4 separate regions of the Homo sapiens genome follow, and all the other regions are reported to be linked to region 1. Evidence: microRNA targets listed by miRTarBase, many of them from high-throughput screens and not tested one by one. Region 1 holds a microRNA gene; each other region holds the end of a gene's coding sequence. Distances are between the middles of the regions.
Evidence for each region. Region 1 holds the annotated microRNA hsa-miR-548h-5p (AAAAGUAAUCGCGGUUUUUGUC, at 2,863-2,884, opposite strand). A microRNA usually pairs through its seed, bases 2 to 8, with sites in the 3' UTR of a target mRNA and lowers its output. Matches are read on the target gene's strand: a 7mer-m8 pairs with bases 2 to 8, a 7mer-A1 pairs with bases 2 to 7 and ends in A, and an 8mer does both.

Region 2: the mRNA of MAP2K4 is a reported target of hsa-miR-548h-5p. Seed matches in the 3' UTR shown: 7mer-m8 at 5,301-5,307 and 7mer-A1 at 4,841-4,847.
Region 3: the mRNA of SETD7 is a reported target of hsa-miR-548h-5p. Seed matches in the 3' UTR shown: 7mer-m8 at 1,666-1,672, 7mer-A1 at 1,706-1,712 and 7mer-A1 at 3,768-3,774.
Region 4: miRTarBase lists XKR9 as a target of hsa-miR-548h-5p. Seed matches in the 3' UTR shown: 7mer-A1 at 5,021-5,027 and 7mer-A1 at 4,857-4,863.

What each region holds. Positions count from the first base shown.
Region 1 is chr17:13,540,735-13,547,857 of GRCh38, forward strand. It overlaps MIR548H3 (microRNA 548h-3), which reads right to left and starts at 2,912; the gene lies at 2,795-2,912. All of the region lies in intron 1 of HS3ST3A1 (heparan sulfate-glucosamine 3-sulfotransferase 3A1), which reads right to left.
Region 2 is chr17:12,139,936-12,147,058 of GRCh38, reverse strand. MAP2K4 (mitogen-activated protein kinase kinase 4) reads right to left here. Exons shown (of 11, transcript NM_003010.4): 11 at 3,231-5,912. The coding sequence ends at 5,799. Among named protein-coding and RNA genes, the nearest start is that of MIR744, 62 kb to the right of the region's middle.
Region 3 is chr4:139,505,421-139,512,543 of GRCh38, reverse strand. SETD7 (SET domain containing 7, histone lysine methyltransferase) reads left to right here. Exons shown (of 8, transcript NM_030648.4): 8 at 701-6,506. The coding sequence ends at 881. Among named protein-coding and RNA genes, the nearest start is that of SETD7, 47 kb to the left of the region's middle.
Region 4 is chr8:70,733,220-70,740,342 of GRCh38, reverse strand. XKR9 (XK related 9) reads right to left here. Exons shown (of 5, transcript NM_001011720.2): 5 at 4,401-6,547. The coding sequence ends at 5,919. Among named protein-coding and RNA genes, the nearest start is that of XKR9, 67 kb to the right of the region's middle.

The DNA of each region.
Region 1 (7,123 bases):
TCCTAGAGAAAAAGCATTCAATCTATCTTCCTGGAAGATCTTGGCATTCATTCCCCTTAGGGGCTACCCAAAAGAGCAAAAGGGAAAGGCAGAAGGGATCTCTGGGACCTCACATCCTTATTTAAGCAGAGAAACTCCCCTTTTATCAGTGTTCATTTTCACTTCAGTGTAAAATTTCATTTGAACTAGGAGTTCTAAGGTCATCAAATATTTGAAAACTACTGCTTAAGGGAACACATGTGGATTTGTAAATCCTGCTAAATCTATTTATGTATTGTGATATAATTCTCCCTACTGATGCTGTAAAAAATTGTTTTAAACTGAAAGCTATGATATAAACTATTCCAACTGACCCCACATATCCCCAAAGGCCTCCTTTAAAGTTCTACTCTGTGGTTTGAATGAGTTTTTGAATGGATGCCAAAGATTTCCTATCTCCTCTGCTAAAGAGGCTAAGACTACAAAAGAAGCCAAGCCAGGGGGAAAGAAAAATTCCAGCCATAAAGTTTCAAAGAATTCTCAGATATTAATTCTGACCCAAGTGCCAGAGTGATTCACTGGCGGGTGATGCTGAGTAATCTTACTTTGGACTCTTAATCCATGTTCTATTAATGGATTTTAGCCACAGCTCAAAAGGTTAGGAATTAAAGACCCCATTTCCACCTCTTTTTATTAAATTATTCTAACCTCATCCTGGGTAATTCATCACTGTCTCACTCGCTCTTGGTACACACATTGGGAATGGAAGGGCCAGTTGATACAATCACCCTGTCCACCTTCCCAAACACATTCTAATAAAAAAAGAGCCCTAAGTCCAGTTTCTCTGAGATTTGAGAGGGTGGTTATTCCAATTTTACATTCAGTACTGCTGAAGAGTCAGTTCCTAGAGACTCTTGCTCCTTAAGGAGTCTCTTTCTTTAGTAGAATCATACCCTTTGCCTTAGTTTTGGTAATTTTCAATGTTGTTTAGGTTGAGCCTTTGAACATCGTGACCAGATGGTCATCTGTTGGCAGTTTCCATAGCATTCGTTCAGTGGGCACAAATCTTGAAGGCTACTTGAAGAAAGAGGATGAAGTTCAGATGGTTCACACACCTCCAGAAACCTCTTTCAACTGTGAACAATCTTGACTTGCTGTGGTTTCTGTACATGTAGTAAAGCATGTTGAAGGAATGGATGCCTTGACTTCATTGATACCTGGAATGGACGGAATTATATCCCCTCAAAATTGGTAAGTTGAAGCCTCAACTCTCAATGTGACTGTATTTGAAGATTAAAGGGCATTAAAGGAGGTTATTAAAGTTAAATGAGGGGTCGGGCACAGTGGTTCATGCCTGTAATCCCAGCAGTTTAGGAGGCCAAGGCAGGTGGATCACTTGAGGTTAGGAGTCTGAGACCAGTCTGGCCAGCATGGCAAAACTGCATCCCTATAAAAAATACAAAAATAGCTGGGCATGGTGGCGTGCACCTGCAGTCCCAGCTACTTGGGAGGCTGAGGCATGAGAATCACTTGAACTCGGGAGAGGTGGAGGTTGCAGTGAGCAGAGATTGCGCCACTGCCCTCCAGCCTGGGCAACAGAGCGAGACTCTGTTTCCAAAAAAAAAAAAAAAAAATGGTTAAGTGAGGTTGGAAGAGTAGATCCCTGATCCAACAGAATTGGTGTTCTTAAAGGAAGAGGAAGAGATACCAGGAGTATGTCTGCACAGAGGAAAGGTTGTGTGAAGACACAGAGAGAAGGTGGCCATGTGCAAGCCAAGGAGAGAGGTCGCGGGAGAGAACAACCCTACCCATCCTCAATCTCAGACTTCCAGCCTCCAGAATTGTGAGACAATAAACTGTTGTTTAGGTCCCCCAGCCTGTGGCACTTTGTTATGGTAGCCTGTGATATTTCGAAATATCACAGGCTACCATATTTTGATATTTGGTCTTCCTGTTTCCTGGCTCATCATTCCCAAAACCCTTGGAATCTAAAGCAATAAATTTCTTTGTGAATGTTAATGAGATGACTGGTGGCTGGGGGCTCCTGGATAGCCTCAGGATGGGGGATGGTTGCCAGGGGAATGTTGTAATTAGAGGGTTGAAACTTTCAGCTCCCCCACTACCACCACACACACACCTCTGGGGTGGAAAGAGGAGCTGAAGATTGAGTTCATCACCAATGGCCAGTGGTTTAATCAATCATGCCTATGTGATGAGACCTCTACAAGAACCCAAGACTGGGTTCTGACAGCTTCCAGAGAGCTGCACACACAGCAGTTCCTGGAGGTTGGTGCAACCAGGGATCTGGGAGCTCCAAACCCCTTCCTACATACCTCGCCCTATGCATCTCTTCTATCTGGCTGCTCCTCTGTATCCTTTGTAATATCCTTTGTAATAAGTGGGTCAACATAAGTGTTTCCCCGAGTTCTGTGAGCCACTCTAGCAAATTAAACAAATCTAATGAAGCGTTCATGGAAAACCCCAATTTATAGCCAGATAATCAATCAGAGGTATACTAATCGCAACAAGCATTTAAAGTGGGGGGCAGTCTTGTGAGACTGAGCCCTTAACCTATGATATCTGATGCTGTCTACAGGTTGATGGTGTCGGAACTGAATTGAATAAGACACCCAGATGATGTGTGCTGGAGAATGTAGTGTCAGAAGTGTTATATCGAGAGATGTGTGGAAGTAGAGAAAAAATATTTTTTTTTCTCTGACATAGCCCAAGCAGACTAATACAGTGCCACAACTTCAACATTTGGAATCAGTCTGAAGAAGAGAAGTTTCCAGAAGACATTATGGCTGTTTTTAAATATCTGAAGACAGTGACTACTTTTAGGTTGGTGCAAAAGTAATTGCAGTTTTTGCTATTACTTTCAATGACAAAAACCGCGATTACTTTTGCACCAACCTAATACATGCAGAATCAGATTTGTTCTCTGTGAATCTAGAAGGAAATCTAGAACTGGTTGGAAATGTTTTAAAAAATAAGGAATTTGTCTCAATGATAAAAAAGGAATTTTTAACTGTTAAAGCTTTTCAAAAGAAGAATGAGAATGAGCTACATAACAAAAGTGGGTAAGATCCCATCTCATAAATAACCATCGATCTGGATTCCGAAGCATCACAAAGAATGTTGGACTACCAGGACTCTATGATGACTTTTAAGTGGTAAAAGTAGGATTTTAAAACCCTCTCATCAAGGGTTACCACTAAGTAGCTCATTATCTTGGGCAAGTTGCCCAAAGTCTCTTCATCTCAGTTTCCAAAAATCTTTTTAAAAAGAAAGTACAGTTTTTGTGAAAATTGAAAAGAATATATTAGTAAAGCATCAAATAAATAGAAAACATTATCATCATCATCATGCCATTGGTGTCATCAAATGAAAATATTCCAAGAAAAGAAAAAATATATAATGCTTTCCATTCATATGATGAAAATATATACATTTTTTCTTACTTTGGGTTTGCTTTAAAAATATAAATATAACTGTGCTTCTCATGAAAAGGTAATCATATAAAACCATTAAAAACCCAAACCCTGGAAGTTTGCCTTACATCATAAGAAGAAGAGCAACAAAAAGCCTTAGTGAAACTGAACAGAGTGTTCTCTTTTCCCTGATGGGTGAGATGCGATCTGCACAAGCTGTGAGTGTAGAGAAACAAATGCTAGTCCTTCAGCTGTAGGGGTCTGGGACGACCTTCCTAACTAAGGCAAAACTGCCTTTTCTGTGAGTCACCCTTTGAAGGAAGGGCTCGCTGCCTGGGAGCAGTTTTACTGTTTCACATTTCTTTCATTCATCACTTTTCAGGCCCTGCGCCGTCTGGCACAGCCCCAGCCTCTTTGTGTGGATATCTGGCTCTCATTGCTGCAGAGAAGTGATGTCAGGAGGCTCTGACTCAGGTGAGCAATAAGGAGCAGATGGCGCCTCCACAAACCCAGAGCCTCTCCCCGCACCCTGCTCCTTGGAACAAGAGTAATTATTATAAATGGGATGGGTGGTGGGATAAGCAAAGATCCAAGTTTTCTAAGAGGATCTGCAAAGCTGAACCCTCCAGGAAAAAAAAAAAAGTGCAGCCACCAGCATGGACAACAGAAAGGAACCCTGATTGGAGATTGTTTAGGAACATGGTGCTCACTCAATTGGGCGTTGTGCTAATCTGATTAATGAAATGACGATGCTAAGCGGGGCGTTCAGCTTGCTGCATCCGTAGCTAAGGCAAGTTGGGCAATTCCCCCCAGAACATCAATTCTCAGCACCCTTGTCAGATAACTGTTTATGAAAAGATGAATGCACGTGGCAATCTCGGGTGAAGGAGGCTGATGCATGTGTTGTTAATGATTGAAATAATCAGTTTGGTAGTAACTGGCATGTGCGCTTGTCAAATGACAGGCTGGGGAGCATTAGCATTCCTCAGGCATGGACGCCTTTATCTTCAGGCTGGTGTCTGACAACTACCAAGATCACCCATGAATAAATATCGGGCCTTACCCAGACATAATTAAACTGCCAATGCAGATATACCTAAATAAAATTGATATCTTAATGACACCAGATAGTGTTCAAGTAATGAAAGCAGTGTGAGAGGGACCTGCACAATGAATGGAGACATCAGTGCTCATTCCACAGGGGACTCTTCCCCCAGTAACTCCTCACAGAGGTTGCTTCTCATCGTGGTGGAGTTTTATTTCTGGCCTTTTCTCTTCGATTGGCCTGCCTTCACCATCTGAGAAATCTTTCCTTCTTTCTCCCTAGCTATACCGGAGAGCTATGTATCTCTCTGCATGGAAGAGGTTTGTGTATCTTTTGTTACACTCCACTGGGCCACAGAGATTTTGGTTTTGTGACATCTGAAATAACCCCACTATGCTTAGGACACCAGTGTTTGCTGATCCTGGAGCTGCGGCTGCATCACCTCCTCCACGGAGTCCCGGGAGAAACCTCCGTTGCTCATGTCTGCATCACTCAGTACATCCAGCAAAATGCTAAAAAGCATCAGGTGGTAATCTCAGCATTTTCGGGGGCCGAGGCGCATGGATCACTTGAGGTCAGGAGTTCGAAACCAGCCTAGCTAACATGGTGAAACTTTCTCTAATAACAATACAAAAATTAGCCGGGTGTGGTGGTGCGCACCTATAGAGTCCCAGCTACTCAGGAGGCTGAGGCAGGAGAATCGCTTGAACCCAGGAAGCAGAGGCTGCGGTGAACCGAGATTGTGTCACTGCACTCCAGCCTGGGTGACAGAGCGAGTCTCCTTCTCAAAATAATTTAAAAAAAAGTACCAGGTGAATCTGATCTCCAGCCTCTTGCCAGCTCTGGGGGTCGTTTGAGAGAGAGAGTGCGTATGTGCATTTATCTGACTAATTTCCACCTGTCCGCCCTCTCTGACTTCATAAAATTGACTGTCTACCACGTGGACCAACTCCTCACCACTAAGATGCAAGCACTTTCATCTTATCTAGTCCTTTATCTTTATATGCCACTCCCAGGAAAAAATGAATCTGCCTCTGAAACCATTTCTACAACTCCTTATCATGTTTCTTTTTTCTTTTTCTTTCTTTCTTTTTTTTGACGGAGTCTCACTCTGTTGCTAGGCTGGAGTGCAGCGGCGTGATCTTGGCTCACTGCAATCTCTGCCTCCCAGGTTCAAGAGATTCTCCTGCCTCAGCCTCTCGAGAAGCTGAAATTACAAGTGCGTGTGCCACTACGCCCAGGTAATTTTTGTATTTTTAGTAGAGACAGGGTTTCACCATGTTGGCCAAGATGGTCTTGATCTCCGGACCTCGTGATCTACCCGCCTCGGCCTCCCAAAGTGTTGGGATTACAGGCGTGAGCCACTGCGCCCAGCCCATATTACGCTTCTTAATTGCCGTTATCTTGCAGTAGATTTTTCCTACTGATTTCCCTATGGAAATGGCACCCCCTCTTTCAGCCTCTCTCTTTAACTACCTCCTTTGACTAAAATGTGATTATTCATAGACTTAATTTGCTCACCTGAAAATCGCTGAAGTTGGACAAGATCATCATTTCTCAAACTGTGTCCTCTAGAACACCAACTTTTCGTAGTACAGTGCCAAGCAGCAGTTGTTCAATAAATATTTGTTGAATAAATGAAAATACTTGTGTCATGATAAAAGGGATTCTGGAGACAAGTGTAGGGAGAGCTGAGAAAAATGTGTTTAATCTTTACTCTAAAACTTTTCAGACCTTCCGATGGGCTACTAAGCAGTATAAAACTTCATATGGTATGCAACTTTTAGCAAACTTATTTAACCATGGAATTTCATGTTTTGCAGTTGCCTAGGAACCCGTCACAGAATATACATTAGATTTAATGATTACCAAATTTCTTTTGGCTATTAAATTCTATGACCACATGTCTTACACAGAGACCCATCCATCACTCCCATTCACCTCAAGGGAAGAAAATAAGTCTTCAACTTCATCCCTCCCCATAGCATCTAACACTATGTCTTTCCTTTTAAAGTCCTGTGATCATTAAAAAAAATTTGGTCTTTGTCCCCAGTTCCTGACACAGCTCCTAAAGCCCTTGGAATTTTGGGAGTAATAAGTGCCTTTTGCAAGTAAATGTGATGACTGATGGTTGGGGGGCCCCTAGATAGCTTCAGGGGAACGGGTTGCCAGAAAGACCAACGCACCATTAGGGAGTTGGAACTTTTAGCCTCACCCTACAACCTCCATGGAGGGGAGAAAGGGCTGGAATTGGAACTAATCAACAATGGCCAGTGATTTAGTTCATCATGTCTATGTAATGGAACTTCCATAAAAGCCCCTAAACAACCAGGGTTCAGAAAGCTTACGGAGGTGCTGGGAGGCTGTGCACCCAGAGAGGACATGGGAAGATCCATGCCCTTCCTCCACACCTTGCCCTAAGCATCTTTTCCATTTGGCTGTTCTTGAGTTGTATTCTTGACAATAAACTGGTTATAATAAGTACAGTCTTTTTTGAGTTCTGTGAGTTGTTCTGGCAAATTATTGAACCTAAGAAAGGGGTTATGAGAACCCTTGATATTTAGCCAGTCAGTCAGAAGTACAGGAGGCCTGGGACTTGGGATTAGCATCTGATATGGGGCAGCCTTGTGGGAGGGACTGAGCCCTTAACTCCAGGGATAGGATGCTA
Region 2 (7,123 bases), 1.4 Mb from region 1:
AACAGACAAAAGTGGGTTGAGATCAAGTCTTATGAACTAAGAAATTAAACTGTGAAATACCATTTAGGATTAAAAGTGAGCAGATGATCAGTAATGTTGCTTCTAATCATGTGCTAAAGGCAATTTTCCAAAGGAAAATGGCTCCAGGGGTTAGAATAAGTGTCGCAGGCAGGAATCATATGTAACTATCAATCTTTTGCTTTTAAACCTTGTAATTCATCGTCAAACGGGAAGCACAGTTTCATAAAAATCCTAACAAGCCAGGTGTGGTGCCTCACGCCTGTAATCCCAGCACTTTGGGAGGCCAAGGAGAGTGGATTAGTTGAGGCCAGGAGTTTGAGACCAGCCTGGCCAACATGGTGAAACCCCATCTCTACTAAAAATACAAAAAATTAGCCAAGAGTGGTGGTAGGTGCCTGTAATCCCAGCTACTTAGGAGGCTGAGGCAGGAGAGTTGCTTGAACCTGGGAGGCAGAGGCTGCAGTGAGCCAAGATCGTGCCACTGCGCTCCAGCCTGGGCAAAAGAGTGAGACCCTGTCACATACACAAAAAGAATCCTAATAAGCCATCAAGAGATCTGAGCTCTATATACCCTCTTGATGTATTACCTTAGGCAAATTACCTAATTATTTAGTACTGTTACGCATGTGTAGGACTGGAGCAACAGAATACCCTTCCTATCTCCTTGAAGAGTGGTGTTCACATTAAATTTGTATAAGAATTAGGAAAAACTGGAAGTCTTAATACTGTTCTTTAGCAGAATGCATATGTAGATAGAAATTTCAAATGCAGACAGAAATTTGATTCATCATGCATTACAATTACTGAATTGTGACTATATGCTATATGGGTTAACAAGTTTTAAATAGCAGGACTACATTTTACATTTAAGATGTATAAATACATTTTGGCATATCAGAAAAACAAAACAAAATGTTATCAAAAGCAGATACTGAACCACTATCTTTATGATTTCAAGGCTTGAGATGAGAATTTCTGGATATTCACGTATCGAAAAGATGGGAAGAACCAAGATATAAAGATAACTTCAGTCTGTACTAAATTACCAGAAGACAAGCTGTTTCCCATTCTACAGGTGTTCCTTCTATGATGTTGTCCAGTGTCAATTTTCCATGACGTGGTTCTTACAGTTCATCCTAAGAGTTATTACTGCAGATTACATTTTCCCTCAACCACTTAATGAGGTATTTAAAACCAAGCCAGTACGTTTAAGACAAAGCCTTTAGATTCTCTGTCCCTCACATCCCAAGCAATAAGCCCAGGAACAATGGATGTGACTGGTGCAGACAGCCCTGCACAAGAGATGGAGACACATAATCTCTACACACTGCCAAGAAAAGTAACCAGTGTCCCAACGGTACTTTCAAGACCTTATGTGTCCTTTCTCTATCCTCCTGCAGCTAAGACAGTTGGATCGAATCAATTAAAGGGAAGTCGGGCATGCTGGCTCTTTGTAATCCCAGCACTTTGGGATGGCGAGGCAGGTGAATCGCCTGAGGTCAGGAGTTCGAGACGAGCCTGGCCAACATGGCGAAACCACATCTCTACTAAAAATACAAAAAAAAAATTAGCTGGGTGTAGTGGCAGGCGCCTGTAATCCTAGCTACTTGGGAGGCTGAGGCAGGAGAATCACTTGAACCTGGGAGGCAGAGGTTGCAGTGTGCTGAGATTACGCCATTGCTCTCCAGCCTGGGCGACAAGAGTGGGACTCCATCTCAAAAAAAAAAAAAAAAAAGAAAAGAAAAAGTTACCTAGGTGTGGTGGTGTGCACCTGCAATCCCAGCTACTCGGGAGGCTGAGGCAGAATTGCTTGAACTCCGGAGGCAGAGGTTGCAGAGCCAAGATCACATCATTGCATTCCAGCCTGGGCAACAAGAGCAAAACTGTCTCAAAAAATAAAAAATAAATAAAATAAATGAAAGGGCACTTTACTCATTCTCAGTGATTGCCACATTATCATGCTAATGGAGACGTTCAGTCCATGACACTGAATTCTCAGGTGTTTGCACTGAAGAATTACAACCTAGAGTTCCTCTAGTTAATTCTAAGGTAATTACACAGTTGCCTTTGTATGGATCGCTTTGTATGTTAAGCCCCACTGTGGCCCCCAGAACCTCTGCCTTCAACTCATTTCCAAAACAACAAAGCAGGCCCTGGTCAGGTTTATGAACAGAGTATCCTCAACTATATTCATTCTTCCACTTCTCAACTCCACAACACTTCTTTAATAGCAGTGTTTTTAAATTAATGTAACTTCTTAGGGTACGTGTTACGGCCTTGAATTTGAATCTCAGCTCTGCTCCCTACTGTTATTTGAGCCAGAACTTCACTCCTTCGGACCTTGGTTTTCTTGTATCTAAAAGGGGATACAGCCACTTGATTTTAGTGGGATGCATTTGGAATCAAATGAGATGAACAAATACAAGGCAGTGTCCTATGAAACATGGAGTGTGTAGTCTATCTCTCATGCCAGTATTGAAACCCAATGGGTACCCTTTCCCTTAGCAGCTGAGGTTAGCTGGAGAGGCCAGAATTCCTGCTTTCACACCCCTCTCAGGGGAATGTTTGATACCACATCTGGCTGTGTAATAGTATCTCAGGTACAGTTAGGAGCAGGCACAAGGGCAAGGTGCTGAATCACCATAATATCAATGAATCTGTTATCTGATCAATCACTGGTAGGAGGTAGAGTACAGCAGATACATTCAGTGCTGGAGCCGCAAAGTGCTTTTCTCCAACAGTTTTCAGGCTCCCATGGCTTTTTGTTCACTTCCATTGTCCTCTCATCCATAAACCTCCCATGTCTGACCTCCAGACGTCTTCTACCCACAATCCTCCCTACCCTTCTAAGGTAACAGTGAGTGATTCCAACCCAGTATCTAACCTGACATCTAATGCTCACCTGGCAGCTGAAGCACCAAGAGCGGAGAGCATGGCTGGAAACCATACACGGGGCCCAGATAGACTTATAAGTTGTACCTCTCCACCATGACACAGGTTGAAGAACTGTACCCACTTCCTTTAGCATTAAGAATGCTGGGGCAGGTCAGGACAACAAACAAAGAAACTCAAGAGACTGTGACACCTGTTCAAGCAAAGCTATGCTTAACAGATACATCTGTGGTTTCAAGAAGGATAAGCAAAAAGGGTAGCCATGGGAAGGAAGAAGAAAAAGAAAGCAGCCATAAAACACTTCCAAAAGGAGGTCATTTTCCCTGGTGTGAAATGCACAGATAATTTAATGTAATTTACTTTAAGATTTTCCCCTCTCAGGGTCTGATTTCAGAAAATCAAATTACAAAGTCATCATCACATCCTAGATTTATTACAACTGACCTGCAGGCAAAAGGATAGAACTATTACATAAACACTTCGATTCCATGTATATATCTTAAATAGAGGAGGAATTCAAACAAGAATACAGGATAAAATATTCCAAAGCTCCAAGAAGCAGTTATGTTACTGAGCTCCATTTTTTACAGACAAATAAGGCAATATCCCTGCACATTAGCTTTTTGATAATTTTTATACATTTTTCTATGGTACAAGAGAAAAATAACCAGAGCTCACAATGTACAGTTCTTACACTATTTTCACAGTTTGTGAACACTATACACCCTTTTGTTTTAATAAAGATACATTGTAATAAACTCCTTGCCCTTAAGTTTATAGTTTATAATAATCTATGATTAATACACTAAAATTGCCTTCTTATGTGGTCATCCACACAATAGAACGGTCAGATTAGCTCCTGGACAGTCAGAATTGCTTTTATCTCCATTTGCATAATGGCAAAGTGACCCTATGCTGAGCCAGATGGGAAGTTGACAGCAGAGAAACAGATTCCTCTTGAGTCCCCGGGAGCAATGGAGGATGATGGCTTGCTGTGGTCGAAGGCAGACATAGAGCAATGTCTCCTTTCAGAACAGTGGGAAGTCTAAAGTTTAGGATACCGTGGGGGAGAAGATAGGGAAATGAGGCAAGTAGATCAAAGAGATAATCACTTTTGAATTCTGCAATTTACAGGGATGTGACTTTAAACAGCACCATTCTCCCTTTATTGTTTGACAGTATTTATGACTGTCACTCTGAGAGGAGACACAGCAATACGTGCCACGATTTGGTTCTGTAATGGCATCACCTGCATCTCAGGCCATGACTGTTTTATATTCCAGTGTGCTTGAACCACTCACAGTGCTGCTTCACTGTCATACAAAGCCTAAGGTTCAGTGCCAGGGAGGCCCAAGCAAAACCTAATGAGAACCTGGCTAATGGGTAAGTGAAGAAGCACAAGATACTTAAATGGCCTCTTGTAACAGTGCTGAGGGTTTTGTTTTGCTTTTTGTATTTTTTTCCAGTAGAATTCCAATGCCAAGAAATGGTGATGGACTACGAGAGGTTCTAGCAGGTGATGAACGTAAAGGCTGCCGTTTCGGATCCTCATCTGGTCCAATGTGTCTCTAGAAAAGATGCCTCTTTATCACCTACCACATCGGCTGGGCCCCACTATTCTTAGCCTTTTAAACACTAGCGAATATGAGAGATTTGGGGCTAAAAATCCTTGGTAAGGAACATCCCTGCTAACTGTAAAGGTTTTTTGATATAGAAAAAAGGCAAAATATTGGATTAAGCGCAAGTCACATAGCGACAATAGACCACAGGGGAAGGGAAAGAGATTCGGAAACTGAAGACCTGGACCAGTGATGGCAAGAAGCAAACAACTGAGATTTGGTCTTTTGCTGCCTACTAGAAATCTTTATCTAATCAATCAAGGCACATTGCTACTAGCTACTTCTCCCTGTTAGTGAGTTATGATGGCTAAAGTATCAGGCTTGGGACCAAGGGGAAATATATAGCTGCTACAAGTTGTTCCAGATAAAATACTAGAATTAAAAACATCTGTAAACTTTGCCTTCTGTACTGTTTTCTTCTTTCAGTCCTGGTGGTTTGTGGCAGGTGGAACATCAAGTTGGCAGCACACCGAATTCTGAGAATGAAAAATTCTTAGGATCAGCACCTTCTTTGACAAGTGGCAGACTCCTGAGTCTTCCCATTGAAAAATAGGACTGGTAAAGGAGAAAAGAACACATTCTGTCCTGTCTCTATATTTTAATGTTCACCTCTTTGAACGCAACATGGTTTTTGGTAAAGATAAATTCATTCTAATTTAACATGATATTTCAAACAGGAAATTTGGCTGAGCACATCGATCCCCAAACATCAACTGTAACTGTAAAGCAACAGAATATCACATCAGTAATCTATTGCACTTGGTGAAGAAAGTAAATTCCTCCTTTGTCTCCCAGCTCCAGAAGGCAATGTGTCTCGTTGGCTGTGCAAGCTCTTCTCACTCAAGCCCGAGTTTCTATGTTCAGACATAGTACATTCATCACTGTGTCCTTCCAGGATTTGGAAGTCTGACAAAACACCATTCCAGTAGCTGCATCTCCAGGTTTTGAGTCTAGAAATGAATTTAAGATGTGATCTAATCACAGTCAACAACTTGATCGTACTGACTTCCACATTTCATGAATATGTTCATCACAAAAGAGCAGGATGAGGTCTCTCTGACCAGCACTAACACTGTGTGATCAATCAGGTATTACAAGGATGCACGTTCTAGGTGACAGGAGTATACAGACATGATGGAAACGAACACCAATCTTATTGCACATGGTGTCTGGGCGAGCAATAAAAACACTGTGATACGGGATGAAAATTCTTTACGTCTTGCTTCCTCTCAGCCCTTTTTTCTAGAGTCTGATGTAGCAGCGATATCAATCGACATACATGGGAGAGCTGGGAGTAGCTGGCATTTGATCCAGGATTTTACAAACATAGCATGCGACCTCAACGGCACGTTCTTCATACATCAAAATAAAGGGATGTTTCTGCAAGAAAATTGAAAACAAAAAAGTCAAAAGTTTGTATGACAGCCCAAACTGAACATTTTCCAATTTCTATAGAACATAGAACTCCAGGCTCCCAACCACACATAGCTATGAAATACCGCAACACTACAAGTTCAGAGAGGCGAGTACAGCCTTTATTCCATGCAGATATGCTAATGGGCATGGGCATGCCTAGAGAGAGGATACGTGGTAATGATCTGAAGGTGCCACCTTGGCAGTGAGGTCTGGAAACTCATCTGTATACCAGGGAGTGTTTGTTGAGGAAGACAGCCAAGTTGTCACTCAGCACAAAACATAGCTGGAGCCTCCACCACACCATCTAAGAGCTAAGAAGAATGACGCAAATGCCAGTCACTATTCCTCTTGGGACACCAATATAAATCTCAACCTCCATTTCTCCTATATACAACAGGAGGACCTTTTTACAAAAAGGTCGCAATCCTTTTGACCTCTTCTTTTGACCTTTTAACAAAAAGGCTGTAATTCTTTTGACCAAAAGAGGCCCAAGAGAAATTTGCCCCAGGAGCTTCTTCCCTGTACTCTCCAGAGCCAGGGTCCCAGTATCTGCTTCACTAACCCACCTTTTAAAACTCCATCTCTAGCAACAGTTTTCTTTTACAGACTAAGTATGTTGACTAGATATTTTTACAGTCATTGGTGGACTGTGATATAAGTTTGTCACAACATCCTTGAAGAGCTAGTAGTTAAATGTGACAAACAAATGGATCTTTTCTTAAAATATTCCCACATTATTAGATCACAACACTTTCTCCCTGCCCCACCAATGCCATACCCAGTAGACTGCTTAAAACACCCAAGTTCCATGGGATGAATGAGAACTTTCAAAGAAATGGGAATAGGCTATATGACGTAAATTTGCATGAATTTTATAAAGGCAGAATAAACACAAATTTTCACTAATTTTTTTCTTATGGCTGCATCCCATATAAATAGACTATGCAGTGGAAAATGGCTTCTTAAAGTCAGAATTCTTTGGGGGTAATTTTTATAACATGTTAAGACCAAAATTTTCCATGAGAATTTAGCTAGTATTAGTAGAAAAATTATAACTGCAAATTTTCTCTTTCCAAATCTTTGTGTAAAAACATTAACAAAAAACACTCAATAAATTTGAGATGTTTGTTTATGACAGAGAGGCCCACTGCTTGCTTAGTGAACCAGCATGTTAA
Region 3 (7,123 bases), not on the chromosome of region 1:
CCATAGTGTTAACCTCGTTTCTGGTCCCAAGAGGACTTGTTGTAGGAAGGAGATACTGCTCTCTTCATAGGATGCTTCACAGGGAAATACTAAATAAACAGGTTGGCAGAGAGGTCTAGACTTCCCTCTTGGGAAGAAATCTTCATCTACTTTCATGCTAGAAAATAATATTTCCTCTCTATGTATAGGGTGGAATACAGAGTTTTTGCCTTTGAAAATCCACAGGGCTCTTTCTTACAACTCCAAAAGCACTCTGGTGAAGCCTTCTCCCTGAGATACAGCCACGTAATCTGATGCTGCTGGCCAGACAAGCTCAAATGCTGGCGGGCTGCACTGGATCTGATTTCTCATTAACGACAGATTTTTGTTGTTGATCATGATTGTTGGTTTATAAATGCAAGGTGCCAAATATGCTTTAAAAAACAGAGCAGTGCTTTTCAAACTTTAATACACCAGTGGATCGCCTGGGGGTGTCGCTAAAATGCAGATTGCAATCCAGCAGGTCTGGGATGGGGCCGAGATGCTCCATGTCTAATAAGCTCTCGGGTGAAACTGATGCTGGGTGACCACACTTTGGGCACATACCAGGTGTGCCCAGGGAAGAGTGCCTGGGGGTGATTCCTGTATCAGCCCCTCCCTAGCCTTTGCTTCCAACCTCCTGGTCTGGCCCGGGAATGACTGTGTGCATCTTGATGTTTAGGTTTGTCCACCCCCGTTTTGGGCCCATCAAATGCATCCGCACCCTGAGAGCAGTGGAGGCCGATGAAGAGCTCACCGTTGCCTATGGCTATGACCACAGCCCCCCCGGGAAGAGTGGGCCTGAAGCCCCTGAGTGGTACCAGGTGGAGCTGAAGGCCTTCCAGGCCACCCAGCAAAAGTGAAAGGCCTGGCTTTGGGGTTCAGAGACCTGGAATAGAAACTTGGATCTATGCACTACGTTTATCTGACAATGGGACAACCAGGGACTGCTCATGCTGTGACGTCACATCCTCTCACCATGCGTTAGCAACGACTTTCTCGCATACTAACTAGGTTTGACTGTATTACTCATACCAGATTTAAAATTAGCTAGCCTTGCAACAACGTCCTACTGAGAGGTATTGTCGAGCATTTGACATAAGACAGCGTGATGTTCTTTGGTGGTTCAAGTCTAAATCTGTACCACATTCGGAGATGCCAAATGATTAGACTGAAACAGGGAAACGGGGTTTTTCAGTCATTTTTAGTCAGTGGTTTTTCCATAGTGCTTTTTTCCTATGGCCAGTGCAAATTGTGTTAGCACACTTGCATATGTGCCGTATTAAGGGTTGACAATTACTACATCTTTATTCTCTAAATGTAGTATAATTTGCCTTTTAACCTTTGATCTGTATCTTGCAATAGAATGGCTTTGGTTTTTTTCTTAGTAAATAGGAGCCCACTTCTAAAGTCATTTCACCCCTCAGCCCTATTCTCTTTCTTAGATACCCTTTACAAGAGAAAACTTCCAAATGGATTTTTGCATCAATAGCAGTGTGTAGGTCTCTCTGGTTCTTTCTATATCATCATTTTATTATTATGTCCTAATATAAAGTACTGGCTCATAGGGCCAGGGTATTATTATAGAATATTATTCTCGCATGTAAACAAAGATATCTTTGCTTTAAGATGTGAGAAGAAATGAATTTACTTTGTTTGCATTAAGTTATGGAAGAGTTGTAATATATACTTTAAGAAAGAAGAGAAGAAAACTAGTATCTCTAAGCGGTAACTATGGCAATTTTGCAATATTTTCAGTAGTGCTAGTAATTTTTTCCTCCTTGAGTACACATTAAATGTACATAACATAGCGCGGTCAGGCTTGTGGCACAGTGCATTGAATTCAAAAGTCAAACAGCAAATTTGAATTCTAACAGAATTCAAAAAAAAATTTTTTTAGTCAGTACTACTAAGGCAGACACACTGATTACTAGGTACAAATCAAACCTTGATGCTAAAACTCTTCATCATTGTAATTTCAAAGCACTTACCTGCTTCAAAACATTGTAAACTAAGACTGAACACCTGTATAGTTTAAAAGCAACACTATCAATAGCATTTCAGCCATTTTGCCAGCCATGTGTAATCACAACTGCAGAAATAAGGAGAAAACCCCTGTTTTTTTAGTTTAGCTAATTAGATCTGTAACATCACTGGGATTGCTCTGAATGAATCCTGAGAGTTTTGTTTTTTATAAGCACCCTCACCACATGCCATAGCTTTGTCTCTTTTAGACACCTCGATGCAGCGGCTGGAAGGACTGGAGAGCAGCTGTTGTGCTGATCTGTAGCTGTCAGCTGTGATTCCTGTCACCTGAGTCAGTTTGGTCTGGAAAGCGAAGGCCTTCCAAGCTGTAGCAGATAGTGAGCTCCAGCTGATGAGAGAAGGCTTCAGTGGAAGAAGAGTGAGGACATAGGCAGAAGGAAGTTTGCTATTTCTTGTCAGTTGCACATTGCTTTATGAAGACTACAACAAAAGTGCTTAATCCCAGGCTGCTCATGACTTTCATTTCAGGTGGCCCTTGGGCACATTGACAGAGTTGCCCTTCCCTTCTTTGCAACACCAGGCTTCCTAGAGCACCCGGTTGCATGCTTTGCAGCTAGGTGGCAGTGGTTTCAGGGAGATCCAGTTGGATCCCTGCTTGAAAGCTTAAGCCAATGGTTCACCCATGAGAGGAAGTTGTCAGTGCTTCCAGGAAGATTGCCCACCAAAGGAACTGAATAGTTTTTAGATTTAAAGGCACCAGGATAGGGTCACTCTTACTCTGTAGAAAGAGACCGTTCTATACACTGTGACGGATGGGCCAGGGCCTCTGGACTTGCATTCTGATAGGTGCTTTAATTTAAATGTGCCCAAAGGGAGTGACTGTCTTCAGGAGAAAGATGGCTTGCATTAACCTCGATCAAGTGGGTTGTGCAGCCAGGTCAGGGAATACGGTCAGGGAGAGGATAGTGCTGGTCATGCCCCCGATGCAGCTATGCTCTGAATGATTTCATTCCTGAGAGTGATAGCATTCTGGTCCTGGCTGCAGTGGGGTACAATTTACGTCCTAAGTGGGGGCTACTCTAATTATCCCATTCAAATGGAATTTTTTTCAACATTGGATAGAAGGAATTGAAGAGTTGTAAGTAGTGATTAGTCTGCTAATCAGTTCTTCAGATGAGATATTGAATGGTAACACTCTGAGCTTAAAACTCAGCAGTGTGTCTGTGACCTCCACGCAAATCAGAGGAAGCAATGCATCCACGCTGAGCCTCACCATGTCTTCCTCCCAACTCTCTTCATACTCTCTGTGTCTTCCAGCTCTTCTTTCTCTGGCCGGCTCTCTTTCCTCTTCTCTCTGCATATGTGAGAACGCCTGGGCATCCTGGGTAACAGCAGCCCCAGCTGCCCTCTCCTGTTCCCTGTTCCAAGTCCCCTGCACTGACCTTTCTTGAGTCTCTCTGGCTCTGTGCATGTCTTTGGGACTCTGCTCATCTGGCTTTTCCTCTGTGTGTGCCTCTCTGTTTGCTTATGTCTCTGGCTCTGTCTTCCCCACCCCTCCCCTCACACACACACATACTCCCAAATGTAAGGCTCTGTGGCAGGTTGGAATCGGAGTAAGGCTTGAGATTCACTGAGTTCTGTAGGTAGGGAAAGAAGTCAAGGGAGTGGAGGTTCTATAAGGAATTAACAGCTGAGGACGGAAGGGTTTGTTTCCCGTTTGAACCTAAACGCAAGTGGAAAAGAATACTCAGAATGTATTTTTCTACTTTACATCTGCTGGGGAAGGAAATGTGTCAGGAAGCCGCTGCATCTGGTCATTTCATCGCATCAGAATCACAGCAGACGTGGAAGATTCCATGTGGTGGGGAATAAAGAAATAACTTTATGCTCTCCTGAAAAACAGCGGGAGCCTATGTGTGTGTGCGACACTGTAATCTCAAGGAGATTCACTCAGAGCTGTCTCAGTCCAACTCCTGCATGACCAGATCTTCCCTTAGCATCTTTTCTGTGATGAAATATTATCTTGTGTTAGAGTTAGGAATAGGAACTAACCTGTAGGAGCATGTCCCCAAATGGACATTTGAATGGACTAACAAAAACAACTGGAAAGACTGAATTTCCGACACAAAGGAATGATGGGATCAAAAAGAAAGCAGTGAGGAGTTCTTGAGTCTTGTAGTACCTATTCTTATTTTAACTTGCTTCATCCTTGATCTACCTGAGACACTAAGAAGGAAATTAGTTTTCCAAGAGCTCTTTGAACCTGTCTAGGACTGTAGTTAAACCTATTTGCCCTATGGGGGTTCTTCACACTCGAAAAACTATTTCCTTATCACCAACGACCCACCCAGAAAGGCCAATGAGGCCAAATGTAACAATTTTTAACATTTAAATATAACTATTAAAATTGCATTAATTGTGAACAGTGAATTAAAGGGTTGTCTTCTCCAGGAGACAGTATGTGGCACTTTTCGTAAATTTCATTTAATATATAAAAATTTAAATCACTCACTGCAACATGCATTTAAAATCTTCCAAGAAGGTAGAGGTATCATTTTCTGTTTTGCTTTGTTTTAAAACAGTTGCCTCAAGCTTCTGTCTTAAGAGTAGTGACTTAGAATCCAGATATCTTTTGTTTTAGAAAAACAAGCAAAACTATGTTGCAAGACTGACAGTTGTAATGTTTATTTGCCACAGATCAAAGGTTCACAAAGTATATCAAATTTACATCTACTTGGGGTACCTTGATAGATTATTATTGTTTTTCTTTTATCTTTCCCTTCAGGAATTTGGAAACTCGTTGTCACTTTTTTTAATTTTAAAAATACTAAATTGTAATAGTTTTCTTTTGCCAAATGTGTGCGTACATATTCAAAGCAATGAAACTATTTCAAGCCATACAACCACAGGGGTGGGAACCCTTTTCACAAATTTTAATGTGTTTGTATGTAAATAGATGTTTGTATGAAATATTTTCATGATAGAATGAATATATTTAAATGAAGTTGAATTATTCCAGTGCTACTTAAACACATTACAAAAATTTTGGTGAGAATTATCTGAGTCTATTGAGATGTAATGCAGATCAATTTTGATTTTTAAAAATCAAAAGCCTACAATAACTCTGACTCTCAGCAACTTCCTCGGCGTTGTTGCACCTGACGTGGAGAGAGCTCGTAGGCTTCCCCAGTGCCTCAGCCGCTTCCTGGTGGAAGTTAGGTGCTAATGGAGGTGTGTTCACCTTTTAGTGATATCACTGCAGGCCTTTGAGGGGCCTGAGAGTGAATCAGAGGCATTAGAGACACCGGTGCAGTTATCTGGAGCACAATTTCTTTGCAGGGCAGCAGAATCAGAAGCCAGACTTGGCCATGTGAACCTCGAAACTCGGTTTCCCGGCCGCCATCAACCGCCACCCTTACTGCCTAGTCACACACGTCAGGGAGGCTGCCCTCAGTGGAGTTGGGGTTGAGACCCCAGGGTGGGACTTCACAGTTTTGCCAGCAATCTCTACCTTCTGACTTCTGCCTCGCAGAGAGGAAGGAGAGGGGAGCATCTGGCAAGGGGCCCATTTCTCAGCACAGTACATTTCCTGTCTCAGCTCTGGAAGACTATGCACCCAAGCACCAAACTTCCAACCAGAGAGAGAGACGTCCTCCGATAACAAAAATCCTTGCTTCCTCTGTCTGTGACTTTACACACAGTTGTTCAAAGTTGTTAAATGTCAAGAGTCAATCACATCCCTAGGACATACCTCCCAACTCTCCTGACTCTTATGTTATTGAAAAAACAAACAAACAAAAACTCCTTTATGATGATATTCAACTTGAGTGGGGTTTTTTTTCCACTTTGGTCCTGGATATAATGAAATGATACATATTAGGATAAATTTTCACTGTGTATAGTAGCAATACGAACACACATGCCAATGTATCAACATATCTACTTGGTTACATTTTGGTTTATGATAATTAACCTTGATTCATGTATTGGGAAGCTACAGGGACTACGTAATACCTGCTTATCACATAGGAAAATTATGTCCATGATTCTGAGCTCCCTTCTTCAAAAGTTTCCTCCTGGGTGTTCTATGTTCTCTCTTTATCCTGAAATACATTTATTAGGTTGTGAGGTATGTTGAAGAAGTAGAAGCCAGGGGTATGCTTTCAGCATTTATTGCAACCAAAAGTTAACCCCATCACGGTTAACGAGCATCTTTGGTCTCTTGTGGAATTTGAACTAAAACTATGAGCCTTATTCAATATCTATAATTCTATGATTTTTTTAAATTATGGGAAATTAATGAAAGATGTTTACATGAATAATGTTTGCCCTTACTGTGTTATGAATGAGTTTTTTGTAGTGTGTCTGGGTGCATGATGCAAGAGAGTAGGAAAAATGTTTCTGAAACAAAACTTGACAAATATTTGTAATGAAAGTAAATTTAAAGATTGCTATAATTGCGCTATAGAAACAATGCAAGTATTAAACAAAATATACAATCATCTGTCATTGTCTTCCTTTGGTCATCTAGGTTAGAAAAGCAATAATGGTTTTCTTATAATGTGTCTACCTGTATATTTAAATTACTAAGTGAACTTTACATTTTAAGTTGTTTTAAAATATTATTAGCCATTTATCATTTTCAGAGCATTCTAGTAAGAGCGGAGGATTTGATATGATTCCACATACACCCATAAATCCAGAAGGATTAGCCACACCAACAGAAAGTGTCGGATTGAATACATACATGGTAAGGGTATGGAATGCAAATGAGATGATCAGGGCAAATAGCTGAAAGGAAACTTCAATTCATGATTTAAAGAAAATATAGAAATTTTGTTAGACGTTGTGGTAGATTTTGGCAGTCTGAGGATGAGTCTGAGCTGAGAACCCTGGCAATCCCTTATTCCTGCCCTAATCACAGTCAACATTTCCGTTTTTTTTTTAATCTGAGATGAAGTCTCACTCTGTCACCCAGGCTGGAGTGCAGTGGTGCAATCTTGGCTCACTGCAGCCTCCACCTCCGGGATTCAAGCGACTCTCCTGCCTCAGCCTCCCAAGTAGCTGGGATTACAGGCGCTTACCACCACACTCAGCTCATTTTTGTATTTTTAGTAAA
Region 4 (7,123 bases), not on the chromosome of region 1:
ACAGAGAAGTGCTTAAAGGAGCTGATGGAGCTGAAAACCAAGGCTCGAGAACTACGTGAAGAATGCAGAAGACTCAGGAGCCAATGCGATCAACTGGAAGAAAGGGTATCAGTGATGGAAGATGAAATGAATGAAATGAAGCGAGAAGGGAAGTTTAGAGAAAAAAGAATAAAAAGAAACGAACAAAGCCTCCAAGAAATATGGGACTATGTGAAAAGACCAAATCTACATCTGATTGCTGTACCTGAAAGTGACGGGCAGAATGGAACCAAGTTGGAAAACACTCTGCAGGATATTATCCAGGAGAACTTCCCCAGTCTACCAAGGCAGGCCAACATTCACATACAGGAAATACAGAGAACGCCACAAAGATACTCCTCAAGAAGAGCAACTCCAAGACACATAATTGTCAGATTCACCAAAGTTGAAATGAAGGAAAAAATGTTAAGGGCAGCCAGAGAGAAAGGTTGGGTTACCCACAAAGGGAAGCCCATCAGACCAACGGCGGATCTCTCGGCAGAAACTCTACAAGCCAGAAGAGAGTGGGGGCCAATATTCAACATTCTGAAAGAAAAGAATTTTCAACCCAGAATTTCATATCCAGACAAACTAAGCTTAATAAGTGAAGGAGAAATAAAATACTTTACAGACAAGCAAATGCTGAGAGATTTTGTCACCACCAAGCTTGCCCTAAAAGAGCTCCTGAAGGAAGCACTAAACATGGAAAGGAACAACCGGTACCAGCCACTGCAAAATCATGCCAAATTGTAAAGACCATCGAGGCTAGGAAGAAACTGCATCAACTAATGAGCAAAATAACCAGCTAACATCATAATGACAGGATCAAATTCGCACATAACAATATTAACTTTAAATGTAAATGGACTAAATGCTCCAGTTAAAAGACACAGACTGGCAAATTGGATAAAGAGTCAAGACCCATCAGTGTGCTGTATTCAGGAAACCCATCTCATGTGCAGAGACACACATAGGCTCAAAATAAAAGGATGGAGGAAGATGTACCAAGCAAATGGAAAACAAAAAAGGCAGGGATTGCAATCATAGTCTCTGATAAAAGAGACTTTAAACCAACAAACATCAAAAGAGACAAAGAAGGCCATTACTTAATGGTAAAGGGATCAATTCAACAAGAAGAGCTCACTATCCTAAATATATATACACCCAATACAGGAGCACCCAGATTCATAAAGCAAGTCCTGAGTGACCTACAAACAGACTTAGATTCCCACACAATAATAATGGGAGACTAACACCTCATTGTCAACATTAGACAGATCAACAAGACAGAAAGTTAACAAGGATACCCAGGAATTGAACTCAGCTCTGCACCAAGCGGACCTAATAGACATCTACAGAACTCTCCACCCCAAATCAACAGAATATACATTTCTTTCAGTACCACACCACACCTATTCCAAAATTGACCACATACTTGGAAGTAAAGCTCTCCTCAGCAAATGTAAAACACCAGAAATTATAACAAACTGTCTCTCAGACCACAGTGCAATCAAACTAGAACTCAGGATTAAGAAACTCACTCAAAACCACTCAACTACACGGAAACTGAACAACCTGCTCCTGAATGACTACTGGGTACATAACGAAATGAAGGCAGAAATAAAGATGTTCTTTGAAACCAACGAGAACAAAGACACAACATACCAGAATCTCTGGGACACATTCAAGGCAGTGTATAGAGGGAAATTTATAGCACTAAATGCCCACAAGAGAAAGCAGGAAAGATCAAAAATTGACACCCTAACATCACAATTAAAAGAACTAGAAAAGCAAGGGCAAACACATTCAAAAGGTAGCAGAAGGCAAGAAATAACTAAAATCAGACCAGAACTGAAGGAAATAGAGACACAAAAAACCCTTCAAAAAATTAATGAATCCAGGAGCTGATTTTTTGAAAGGATCAACAAAATTGATAGACCGCTAGCAAGACTAATAAAGAAGAAAAGAGAAAAGAATCAAATAGACACAATAAAAAATGATAAAGGGGACATCACCACCGATCCCACAGAAATACAAACTACCATCAGAGAATACTATAAACACCTCTACACAAATAAACTAGAAAATCTAGAAGAAATGGATAAATTCCTTGACACATACACCCTCCCAACACTAACCCAGGAAGAAGTTGAATCTCTGAATAGACCAATAACAGGATCTGAAATTGTGGCAATAATCAATAGCTTACCAACCAAAAAGAGTCCAGGACCAGATGGATTCACAGCCGAATTCTACCAGAGGTACAAGGAGGAACTGGTACCATTCCTTCTGAAACTATTCCACTCAATAGAAAAAGAGGGAATCCTCCCTAACTCATTTTATGAGGCCAGCATCATCCGGATACCAAAGCCTGGCAGAGACACAACCAAAAAAGAGAATTTTAGACCAATATCCTTGATGAACATTGATGCAAAAATCCTCAATAAAATACTGGCAAACCGAATCCAGCAGCACATCAAAAAGCTTATCCACCATGATCAAGTGGGCTTCATCCCTGGGATGCAAGGCTGGTTCAATATATGCAAATCAAGAAATGTAATCCAGCATATAAACAGAACCAAAGACAAAAACCACATGATTATCTCAATAGATGCAGAAAAGGCCTTTGACAAAATTCAACAACGCTTCATGCTAAAAACTCTCAATAAATTAGGTATTGATGGGATGTATCTCAAAATAATAAGAGCTATCTATGACAAACCCACAGCCAATATCATACTGAATGGGCAAAAACTGGAAGCATTCCCTTTGAAAACTGGCACAAGACAGGGATGCCCTCTCTCACCACTCCTATTCAACATAGTGTTGGAAGTTCTGGCCAGGGCAATTAGGCAGGAGAAGGAAATAAAGGGTATTCAATCAGGAAAAGAGGAAGTCAAATTGTCCCTGTTTGCAGATGACATGATTGTATATCTAGAAAACCCCATTGTCTCAGCCCAAAATCTCCTTAAGCTGATAAGCAACTTCGGCAAAGTCTCAGGATACAAAATCAATGTACAAAAATCACAAGCATTCTTATACACCAATAACAGACAAACAGAGAGCCAAATCATGAGTGAACTCCCATTCACAATTGCTTCAAAGAGAATAAAATACTTAGGAATCCAACTTACAAGGGATGTGAAGGACCTCTTCAAGGAGAACTACAAACCACTGCTCAGTGAAATAAAAGAGGATACAAACAAATGGAAGAACATTCCATGCTCATGGATAGGAAGAATCAATATCATGAAAATGGCCATACTGCCGAAGGTAATTTATAGATTCAATGTCATCCCCATAAAGCTACCAATGACTTTCTTCACAGAATTGGAAAAAACTACTTTAAAGTTCATATGGAACCAAAAAAGAGCCCGCATCGCCGAGTCAATCCTAAGCCAAAAGAACAAAGCTGGAGGCATCACGCTACCTGACTTCAAACTATACTACAAGGCTACAGTAACCAAAACAGCATGGTACTGGTACCAAAACAGAGATATAGATCAATGGAACAGAACAGAGCCCTCAGAAATAACGCCGCATATCTACAACTATCTGATCTTTGACAAACCTGACAAAAACAAGCAATGGGGAAAGGATTCCCTATTTAATAAATGGTGCTGGGAAAACTGGCTAGCCATATGTAGAAAGCTGAAACTGGATCCCTTCCTTACACCTTATACAAAAGTTAATTCAAGATGGATTAAAGACTTAAATGTTAGACCTAAAACCATAAAATCCCTAGAAGAAAACCTAGGCATTACCATTCAGGACATAGGCATGGGCACAGAATTCATGTCTAAAACACCAAAAGCAATGGCAACAAAAGCCAAAATTGACAAATGGGATCTAATTAAAATAAAGAGCTTCTGCACAGCAAAAGAAATTACCATCAGAGTGAACAGGCAACCTACAAAATGGGAGAAAATGTTCGCAACCTACTCATCTGACAAAGGGCTAATATCCAGAATCTACAATGAACTCAAACAAATTTACAAGAAAAAACAAACAACCCCATCAAAAAGTGGGCGAAGGACATGAACAGACACTTCTCAAAAGAAGACATTTATTTATGCAACCAAAAAACACATGAAAAAATGCTCACCATCACTGGCCATCAGAGAAATGCAAATCAAAACCACAATGAGATACCATCTCACACCAGTTAGAATGGCAATCATTAAAAAGTCAGGAAACAACAGGTGCTGGAGAGGATGTGGAGAAATAGGAACACTTTTACACTGTTGCTGGGACTGTAAACTCGTTCAACTATTGTGGAAGTCAGTGTGGTGATTCCTCAGGGATCTAGAACTAGAAATACCATTTGACCCAGCCATCCCATTACTGGGTATATACCCAAAGGATTATAAATCATGCTGCTATAAAGACACATGCACACGTATGTTTATTGCAGCACTATTCACAATAGCAAAGACTTGGAACCAACCCAAATGTCCAACAACAATAGACTGGATTAAGAAAATGTGGCACATATACACCATGGAATACTATGCAGCCATAAAAAATGATGAGTTCATGTCCTTTGTAGGGACATGGATGAAGCTGGAAATCATCATTCTCAGTAAACTATCGCAAGAACAAAAAACCAAACACTGCATATTCTCACTCATAGGTGGGAACTGAACAATGAGAACACATGGACACAGGAAGGGGATCATCACACTCTGGGGACTGTTGTGGGGTGGGGGGAGGGGGGAGGGATAGCTTTAGGAGATATACCTAATGATAAATGACGAGTTAATGGGTGCAGCACACCAGCATGGCACATGTATACATATGTAACTAACCTGCACATTGTGCACATGTACCCTAAACCTTAAAGTATAATAATAATAATAATAATATAAAATTAAAAAATTAAAAATAAATAAATAAACAAAGTCCCCACCACTTCCAAATGCCATCAACATACAAATTTGGAGATTAAGTTTCACACACATGAAATCTGGGGGGCACATTCAAACCATGGCAACAAGGTATCTAAAGTATTCAAACTCATAGAAACAAAAAATTATAATTTCAGTTGAGAGAGACTTGGGGAAGGAGGAAATGGGGATTTGTTCAATAAATAGAGAATCTTAGTTTTACAAGGTGAAAAAGTCCTTGAGATCTGTTGCACAAGGTGAATACAGTTAACACTGATGAACTGTACACTCAAAGTGATTAAGATGGTAAATTTTATATGTTTTTACCATAATTTTTTAAAAATAAAAATAATTTTAAAATATGATTTAGATACAACTATTCTAGCACAAATAGGATTAATATAATTATATGTTAAGAGTGCATTAATTCAGAAAAGCTAGGAAATAAGTAAATAATGAAATGTCAGACCTCTCAGATGCACACCAATTCTCTTTTGCACTTACTGAATTGGAGATTTCATGGATGAAAGCACAGCAGATGCTAAAAATTTGTTTTCTGCTTTCCCTTCTTTCCCTTTTCCTCTACTCAACCTGTCCCCAACTGCAAATATATGCACTGAAGACAATAAAGGAAAAAATAATACAGTGTTCTGCTTTTCTCTTCCCTTTGCAGTCCTCCATAACAGGTACAGTAGTATTAGTTCAGGAACAAGGAAAATGGGAGGGAAGCTCAATTCCAGCCTTCTCATTATGAAAACCAGACCATTTCTTATATTTCAGGCTCAAGATGGCAGCTCTACCAGGCAGTAGAAAGATATCTGAGTACTCAAGATCTTCAAAACCAAATGAGAAATTAATTTTAAAAATAAAATACTACTATGTATCTCCTATTTCACTGAACTAATTTCAAATTAAAGGTGGCAAAAATAAGAGACAACACACCCACATAACACACATTTTCTTTACTAACCAATGAAACAAAATATAAGAAAATATATATCATAAATGAATAGCTTATTCCATTAGGAAATATCTCATTCTACATTCTCTTAGAACTGGTTTTCCATCAATTTCATCACATTTTGTTTCTGCACTTCTGTTTGGGTGAAAACTCCCATAATAAACAATAAGAAAAAGAATTCCAAGAAGAAGAGTAAGAACTATAGTTATACTGATAGGTATAAAATAGTCTGGATTAAAAATAGTGAGGGGGCAAACCCAGAATACAGTCAATATCCCCAAAGTGCCCAGTACCCTAACAATATAATAACAAGACATTGGACACTTGGTATTCTGTCCCTTAATATTAAAAAATGTAAAGATAAGAATGAATCCAACAACAATCCTATATAAGAATTCCATACTTATACAAGTACAAAACTGGGTGTTGTTTTTAAATGCCCATATTATACCTAACAACCAAAGAAATAACAACAGAAATAAAGCAATCTTAACATTTAAGAATAGTAGAAGTACAACACTCAGCATCCACGATAATAATGTAAACAACTTGTAAAAGAGATATGTGATTTTGGGACATAATCCATTAAGAAGCTTTTTGTCAGGCAAGGATTTTCTTAAAGCTACTTGATAATCAACAGTTGACCAAGAAATAGCACAGCAAGAGACCATGATGGCCGCATCTACAAAACAAAAAAATAAAAAATATATTGTTATAGGAATAATAGAAATATTAGATTACTATATCCCATACATGCTATATCTATATACACACACCCACAAACACGTCACATACTTTACTCTTCTCATCTAATCTTTTGAAGTAGATATTATTATGTATGGGGGAACTGAGACTTGGAGAGATACACTGCTTGACCCAAGTTGCAAAGCTAGTAAGTTGCAGAACTGAGATTTGAACCTGATTCCAAAGTGGATAGATTTATCCACTATATTAGACTGTTTTATTATGATTTTTTAAAAATTCATGGGACAAATTTTATTGAGCAACTGATATACTGAAAAAAGCATACTCTGTGAGTTAAGAGACTACAGTTATAATCCTAGTTTTTCTAGATGTTTTGACTGTGATTTTAGGCATACACCCAATTCACTAAGAGATAATAGCTTCAAGCAGGGGTAAGGGAAGGAGAGGAGGAGGGGTAGAGAGAGAGAAAGAGGGTTAAACAGAAAATTTAATATGAGATATTAAACAAGCCCAACTTCCCATATCCTGAAGATATTGAAACAAGTGAATGAGT